Regions from separate parts of the Homo sapiens genome. Here all the other regions are linked to region 1. Evidence: fine-mapped expression QTL. A gene starts in region 1. Each other region holds a variant in brackets. All regions are shown on one strand. Distances are from middle to middle. Region 1 holds the start of USP34 (ubiquitin specific peptidase 34). Region 2 has its middle 41 kb from the start of REL-DT. Region 3 overlaps USP34 (ubiquitin specific peptidase 34).

The links. PIP is the estimated chance that this variant, and not a neighbour inherited with it, causes the effect.
Region 2: its variant is fine-mapped to the expression of USP34 in lymphoblastoid cells (GEUVADIS, PIP 0.95).
Region 3: its variant is fine-mapped to the expression of USP34 in unexposed skin (GTEx, PIP 0.99).

Annotation. Positions count from the first base shown.
Region 1 is chr2:61,469,799-61,472,558 of GRCh38, reverse strand. USP34 (ubiquitin specific peptidase 34) reads left to right here and starts at 1,472. Exons shown (of 80, transcript NM_014709.4): 1 at 1,472-1,909. The coding sequence starts at 1,867. USP34-DT (USP34 divergent transcript) reads right to left here and starts at 1,463. Exons shown (of 3, transcript NR_185882.1): 1 at 1,180-1,463. RefSeq lists silencers at 1,221-1,530, 1,561-1,640, 1,731-2,150.
Region 2 is chr2:60,839,255-60,842,014 of GRCh38, reverse strand. No RefSeq gene overlaps it. Among named protein-coding and RNA genes, the nearest start is that of REL-DT, 41 kb to the left of the region's middle. RefSeq lists an enhancer at 527-946. The variant T/G (reference allele first, on the strand shown) is at 1,431.
Region 3 is chr2:61,254,103-61,256,862 of GRCh38, reverse strand. It overlaps USP34 (ubiquitin specific peptidase 34), which reads left to right. Exons shown (of 80, transcript NM_014709.4): 48 at 385-479. Among named protein-coding and RNA genes, the nearest start is that of C2orf74-AS1, 77 kb to the right of the region's middle. The variant C/T (reference allele first, on the strand shown) is at 1,737.

The DNA.
Region 1 (2,760 bases):
GAAGTGGGAGGATCCCTTGAGCCCATAAAGTGGAGGCTGTAGTGAACTGTGATCGCACCACTGCACTCTAACCTTGGCGACAGAGTGAGACTTTGTCTCAAAAAAAAAAAATTCAAATAAAAATAATTGGGGTTGTGTTGGCAGGGAAAAAAGGGATACGTGGGAATGTATGTTGAGTGGACAACGAATGTCTGCCTCAGGATCCAAAGTAAGTCTGCAAAAACCCAATTCTGTGAGAAAGACAAGGAAGAAGGGAAGATGATGGTAGAATAGAACTACAATCCTAAGGATCACCTGCTAGTGGGAAACAAAACGGGTTGGGCAGACTGTTTATAGTATCAACTTCAAGCAGCAGAAAGGCAAAGCATTTGGAACCAGGTGGTTCTGGCATGGAGAGATGGGCGTGCCATAACCTCCACAAAAGCTATCGAGAGAATGACTACAGAGCCTTGACAGACACTCTGGTTACCGTTCAGAGATTCTGTACACGATCTTTCGGACTTTGCAGTCACATGTCTATGTAAACACGTTGAACACAAAAATTAGCAAGCAAGGGGTAAGTGCCGGCGTGAGGAAAATTCCCTTACAAGCTTCAGCTGACTGCCCCCTTCACCTGTTCTTTATCTTAATATCCTTGTTATTCGCTCTCTGCTGAAGAAGATTTCTTGCTATTTCAGGTGGGGCTGATGGGCACATCGTGAGGGGCCCTCTTCCGTAAAAACGAGACGATGTCAGGCAAACACTCCTTACCCTGCCATTTCTAGTTACGTCAAGGATCTTACTGCTCCAGGACGGAGGACCTTCAAGGAACTGCAGGGTAGCGATAATCACCGATGCAGTTAAGCCGGGCCCTGGGCTGATTCACTCTCAGACCCCGGGGGGAGTGGCCCTTGCGCCCGAAAGAGGGCTACGGCGTAGACCCGGCCCGGCACCCAAGTTGACTCCTTGCTTCCCGTACCCCAAAAGCCTAAGCGCGGAAGAGGCCGGGGACACCAAAGAAACCCGCACCAACTCCCCGACCCAGGCCCTGGGGAAAAATGGCGAAGCCCAGGGGCGGGGGACAGGACGGAGCGAGTGACCTGGCGCTCCCCGGGCCTCAGAGCCCGTGGAGTGGGTCGTGGTGGGCGACGCCACGCAACCGCGACCCGTCCGTTGCCTCCGCCATCTTCTCCTACTCACCCGGACTCCCCCCGCGGCCGCGCTGGCTTCGCGTTTCCCTTCCGGCCGCTGACAGAGATCCGGGCTGGGCGGGGTGGGCGAGCGCGCGGAGGGGGTGGACCGAGGGCGGGGAGGCCGGACGGAAGAGGAAAGGGAGGGCGGCGAGCCGGCCACGGCGGGGTGTGGAGCGTGCGGCGTGTGTGCGGAGGGAGAGGTGGGGGGCGGAGGAGAGGCGAGAAAGGGAGGGAGGCGGAGGAATGAGAGCGCGAGGCGCCTCTCGTCCGCTCCTAAGCCCGGGCGGAAAGAGCCGAGCGCAGCCCGAGCGCTCTGTTAAAATGGCGGCGGCGTCGGCGGTGGCCGCGGCGTCTGGTCGGTGAAGTGACTCTGCTGCTTCTCTCCCCACCCGCCCCCTCCCCCCCTCTCCCCTCCCCCCGTCCTTCCCCCCCTTCCCCGCCGCCGGCGCCTCGGCGCCCCTCCGGCCTGCGCACCTCCCCTCGCTCCCCTCCTCTCCCCCTCCCGCTGCGGGGACCGCCGGCCCCCTCCCCCATTCTCTTGCTCCCCGCCCCGTCCCCGCCGCCGCCCGCCCTAGTCGCCTCCCCGCCCCGCCGGCCGGCCGGCCCCCTCCTCCGCCTCTCTCCCCTCCCCCCCGCCGGTCGGGATCAGTCAGTGTGATCCGAAGCGGGGGAGGGGGGGGGCGGCGGCCGAACGATGTGCGAGAACTGCGCAGACCTGGTGGAGGTGTTAAATGAAAGTAAGTAGCCGCGGTAGCGGCCTGTCGGGGTGCACGGTTTGGGGTCCTCGCGCAGCTCTCTGGCCTCCCCGGGCTGCCGCGGCCTGCGGGAGGCGACGGCCGGGCCGGGCGGCGTGCGGGCCTAGCGCCCCGGGAAGGTGCGCGGTGGCGCGGCCGCCGCGGCGCCTCGGGCCCAGCCCGGCCGGGTTACCTGGGCGCCCGAGAGGCGGCCGCCGCGGAGCTCCGGCTCGGCCTGGCCCGGGCGCTCTGGGCTCTCGGAAAGTTTCCTCATTACAGGTGTCAATTAATGAAGGCAGTAATGAACCCCTCGCCGCCTTCGCCTCCTTCGCCCTGCCGGGAAGGTGCGGGGAGGTGGGGTCGGAGGACGAGGCTTTCCTCCGCAGTCCAAATCCTCCGGCCGCCCTCTTTGATTTCCAGCGTGCTGCCGAGGCCTCTCTTACCTGCTAATTTTCATTAAACTCCCGGGAGCAGGGTGGTGGTTTTTCCCTCCCTTGCGGGTTTGTGGGTGTCTTAAACACTTCAGCCAGACCTTAAATAGCTGAAAACGAACTGTGATAGTGATGATTGGAACCTTCATACCTATTTTTAAAATAAATTTGTTAATGATGTTTCTTAGTGTAGCATTCACCGCTTTAATGGTACATTCTGTTAAGCAGAGCACTGTACTACACATACCATCCCGGGATAGTTATGGCCTATCTCTCTTGGAAGGAAAGGCCTTTTACCTGGTACTTTACTTTTTATTATTAAAAAGGGTACGTTGATCTTTTCTGGCCTTTTTATTTTATTCTCGACCCTTGCAAGATGGTATTTCAGCTTATAGAAGATATATTGCAAATCAACTACTTCTG
Region 2 (2,760 bases), 630 kb after region 1:
TCACTTTTTTTTTTTTTTTTTTTTTTTTTTGAGGTGGAATCTCACTCTCGTCCAGGCTGGAGTACAGTGGTGCCATCTCGGCTCACTGCAACCTCTGCGTCCTGGGTTCAATCAATTCTCCTGCCTCAGCCTCCTGAGTAGCTGGGATTACAGGCACATGCCACCATGTCCGTCTACTTTTTGTATTTTTAGTAGAGGTGGAGTTGCACCATGTTGGCCAGGCTGGTCTCAAGCTCCTGACCTCAGGTGATCCACCTCCCAAAGTGCTGGGATTACAGGCATGAGCCACCGCGCCCGGCCTGTTTTCACTTTTGTTTGTATTTTTTTGCTTCAGTAAAAAAGAGTTGAGAATAAGTAGAAAATAAGAAATATAGGCATCCTTCTGTATGTTGCAATGAAGGTCTTAATAGCAAAGAAACTGGCTTCTGGGACCAGCAGTATCAGCATCACCTGGGAACTTGTTAGAAATGCAAATTCTTGAGCCCACCCCAGACCTGCTAAATTAGAAACTCTGGGGGTAGGTCCAGCAATCTGCTTTAAGGAAACCTCAAGGTGACTCTGATGCATACTAAATTTGAAGACCACTGTTCTAAAGGATAGCACAAAACCAATTTGGCAAATGCTTAAGAGAGATCCAGTCTGGGAATAGATGTTTTGTTTTGTTCAATTTGGTCTCTGCCCCTTCCCTTCCTCAGCCAACCCGATTCATCTTGCTGCAATCAAACCTGTACCAGTGTTTCTCAACCCTGGCTGGGGAGCTCTTAAAAATGCCTGTGCCCAGGTGTCTCTCCAGGCCAATCTAATCACACCCTCTGTGGATGGGTCCCGGGCATCCAGGTGCTCCTGCTGTGCGCCAGGCTTGACAAATTCTGTTCTATATTCAGGTACTTTTGCGGTTGAAACAGATGATTGTTAACACCTGCCCTCAACTTCTTTCATTTATTTCCTGCAGACTCTGTGAAGCAGAACTCGGGCCTCTAGCGTCTGCTAGTCTAGATCTAAAGGTGTTTCCTGAGGGACAGTTTGGCCTGGCATGCAGGTACCTCTGCAGACCACAACAGTGCACCGAAAACACCCCCTCCCAGCACGCACACAAGTCTGGCTCCTCAGCCAAACATCAAACACCAACACTGCTGCCCATGCCAGATGCCAAGTGAGATAATGTGTGTTATACCCTTAGTGTGTTACAAAGAGAAAAGATTAATAAATGTTAGCTATCCTTATCTTCATTATCTAAATAAGGCATGTGGATCTCTTTTCATTTAAACTCACAAAATACCTGCTTAGAAGGCCTATCATGGTTGTTTCATCTTGAATTTTGTAACCATCAACTTTCATGTGAAGCCAGTGAGGGACCACTCACAGTCATGAGGGATGTTCTAAGCCAGCAGTTCTTAAAATGTGTATCACACGGGATCTTGTTAGAAATG[T/G]AAACTCTGGGCCCGGCACGGTGGCTCACGCCTGTAATCCCAGCACTTTGGGAGGCCGAGGCAGGCGGATCACGAGGTCAGGAGATTGAGACCATCCTGGCTAACACAGTGAAACCCCGTCTCTACTAAAAATACAAAAAATCAGCTGGGCGTGGTGGGCACCTGTAGTCCCAGCTACTCGGGAGGCTGAGGCAGGAGAATGGCGTGAACCCGGAAGGCGGAGCTTGCAGTGAGCCGAGATCACGCCACTGCACTCCAGCCTGGGTGACAGAGCAAGACTCCGTCTCAAAAAAAAGAAAAGAAAAGAAATGCAAACTCCGCTAGGCCTGGCGGCTTGTGCCTGTAATCCCAGTGCTTTAGGAGGCTAAGGTGGGAGAATTCTTCAGCTCAGGAGTTCAAGACCAGCCTGGGGAACATAGTGAGACCGCCCCCCACTGCCCCCACTCCACCACTTCCCTGCTCATAAATGAATGAGTAAAAAGAAATGCAAATTCTTTATTTTATTTATTGTTTTTGAGACAGGGTCTCACTCTGTTGCCCAGGCTGGAGTGCAGTAGCTCCATCTCGGCTCACTGCAGCCTCCATCTCCTGGGTTCAAGTGATTCTCCTGCCTCAGCCTCCCGAGTAGCTGGGATTACAGGCACCTGCCACCATGCCCAGCTGATTTTTGTATTTTTAGTAGAGGTGGGGTTTCACCATGTTGGCCAGGCTGATCTGGAACTCGTGGCCTCAAGCCATCCACCCGCCTCAGCCTCCCAAAGTGCTGGGACTACAGGTATGAGCCACCATGCCCAGCCAAGAAATGCAAATTCTTGAGGCCTACCTCAGTACTACTATATCAAAAACCCTGGAGGTGGTGCCCAGCCACCCATTTTCACAAGGCCCCCTGTGTTTCTGATGCATGCTCAGGTTTAAGAACTGCTGCTCTAAGCCTTCAGCCTCTCGAGCTTGTTGGAAATGCATGACCTCAGGCCCCACCCCAGATGACTGATTTAGAATCCCCAGGTCATTCAGATGCACATTAGAGCTTGAAAAGCACTGCTCTCGACTGTCCCCCACGGTCAGATTAGAATTAGAGCACCAGAAAGGGGTACTCTTAGATCAAAGCTTCTCGGCACCCCACAGAAATGCTGTCACAAGACAACAATTTAGGTGTAAGAAATCAACACATGAAAGACATTTCTGTATCTGTGAAAAAGAATTTTACTGCCATTCACCATCCCTGGATAAAGATTCTGTCAGCTTTCTTAGAGTTTAGAGCAAGCACGTGTGTCCTTTTTTAGAAAAGAAGGTGAAGTTATGAAACTCATGATACCTAAATTGCCAGGAC
Region 3 (2,760 bases), 220 kb after region 1:
ATGCACATAATTTTTTTACTTTATGCTTTTACCTATTTGTGTATAGCGGGTTTGTGTTGGTCATCTTGATATTTTTAAACTTTTTTCATGTTTTTATGTATTTTCTTCTTACTGTACTATTCAAATAAGAGTTAAACATCAACCATAAAGCTTTTTCTTGCCCAATCAAAATTTAAATTTTTAATTAACCCTTCAAAAAAGTTACTAAGATTCATAGAATATCTTAATATGAGGAAAAACAGTTTTTTACTAAAATTTAAGAATTCACTTTTAAAAAAAAAATTTTTTTGCTGAGCATTCTGTCAAAATTGTAATTGCCACCTTTTGTATATTTGCATGCTATAAACAATAATATGAAACTTTTAAATGTGGTTTTATACACAGGAATCTCTTGATGAAGTTACTATAAAAGACACTTTGGAAGGTGATAACATGTATACTTGTTCTCATTGTGGGAAGAAAGTACGAGCTGAAAAAAGGTATGCTTTTTCAAATGTGATTTTTATTATGTTCACCGTAGAAGTGAAAGACAAACTAAGGGTAAACTAAGATTAAACTTTGGTGGAAATTATATGATGAAGGTAAAATCAGCTGCATGGAGCTCAGTCTCATGGAGCAACTTTTCATCTAGTTGTTCAGTGAATTACCATTTATTTTGACATATACTGAGCTGTATGAAAGTGGTAATCACTCAACTTGAAACAGTATAGATTTTGGGGAGCAGATACATGGACGATAAGTACATTGATCATTTTCATCATTATCTGTATCGAGTCTCAGATGTCTAGCTTTTGTGACATTTTCTTAAGTAATACAGTGGAACCCCTTATCCTCGGGAAATGTTGCAAGACCCCACAATAGATGTCTGAAACCTCAGATTGTACTGAACCCTATATATACTGCTTTTTGCTGTGCATAACATACCTATGATAAAGTTTAAATTACAAATGAAGCTCAGTATTCTTGCCCTTTGGGGCCATTATTAAGTCAAATAAGGGTTACTTGAACAGAAGCATTGCAATACTATGACAGCCCATGTAATAAGAGAGCTACTAAGTGACCAATAAGTGGGTAGTGTCTGCAACACAGATAAGCTGGACAAAGGGATGATTCATATCCTAAGCAGGATGGTACAAGATTTTATCATGATACTCAGAACACCACACCACTTATGAATTGTTTATTTTTGGAATTTTCTGTAGTAGCTAACTAGGGACTTTTTGTACTAGCTAGCCTTTCCAAAGTATTTTTTATTTAGCAAGCACTGTTGTGAGAACTTTAATCCAGTTAATCCTCACAGCATTTCTTTGCAATAGATGCTGTTATTATCCCCATTTTACATGTGAAGACATGGAGTCACAGAATAAAGAAACTTTCCCAATGCTGATTCCTAAGATACAAATAAGCAAATTTCAGGGAGATAATCAAGTTGAATTTGAGTTCTCATTGGGGCATCCAGCTAGAAAGGTCCTGCAGGCAGTTGGCTGTTACAGTTAGAGCTTGGTGAGAGGTCTAGAATAGAGGTAGATTTGGGAGTTAGTAACTGTTGAGTTAGAGTGTTAAATAAGTGTTTATACTATAATACATTCAAGCTGGTTCCCTTCCAGTGTATTGTTGTTATCTTTGGATGTGTATATTTTGGTACATTGATCAAAAATATTCTTCCTCAGCTTTCATTTTCAGTAGAATTTCTTGGAAAATAATAATTTAGTGGTCTTCAAATAAAAATTGCCTTA[C/T]ACATACAGTGGGTCCCATCTGTAATCCCAGCACTTTGGGAGTTCAAGGATGTGCACTTGAGCCCAGGAGTTTGAGGGCAACATAGGGAAACACTGTTGCTAAAAAAGTTTTAGAAATTAGCCAGACGTGGCATGCACTTACAGTCTCAGCTGTTCGGGAGGCTGAATCGGGAGGATCACTTGAGGCTGGGAGGTAGCTTACAGTGAGCCATGATTGTGCCATTGCACTCCAGCCTCGGCAAAAAATTGAGAACCTATCTCAAAAAAGAAAAAAAAATGCTATACTTGTTCTACTAATGCGTGCCAAACATTATACAATTTTTTCCCTTTATTATTATTCTTTGATGATTCACATGTTCCCCAGGTTGGTCTTGAACTCTTGGGCTCAAACAATCCGCCCACCTCAGCCTCCAAAAATGCTGATATTACAGGCATGAAGCCACTGCACCTGGCCAAAAGGCTCTTAAGAGCCATAAAATGGCAAGTTTAGGACAGAGTAGTTGAGTAAACATTTTAATTTTATATTGAAAGACAAATAGAAATCGGATTGAAAAGAGCATCTTATGCAGTTAGTTACTAAGAACGAATGCAGAGAAATAGAAATGTCCTTGAATGTGCAAAAAATCTAGGATTAGGCCAGCCTGCATTTTTAAGTAGTGTATTCACATGGAACAGTAGTGGAAAACAAGATTGGTAACACGATGGCATCAGATTATTGCCATCCAAGTTTTAGGTTTATCTGTGTGATTGAATCTATCAGAATATCTGCCTGAGAAATAATGTAATTGTTGGAAAAGACTTAAGAGCTAAGCCAACCTAAAAGTACAGAGGACAAAGTGACAGAAGAGAGACAAGGAAAGAAAGAAAATTAGGATAAAATGGTAACCCCCAAACTGGGAGGAGAATCTCAAGAAGAAAATAATCAATTAATATAATTCACAGAGATGAAAGACAATGACAGCTGAATAAAAGCATTGGGTTTTTCCAGAAGGTAGTTTAGTGATGTGTTTTGTCAGGTTATAGG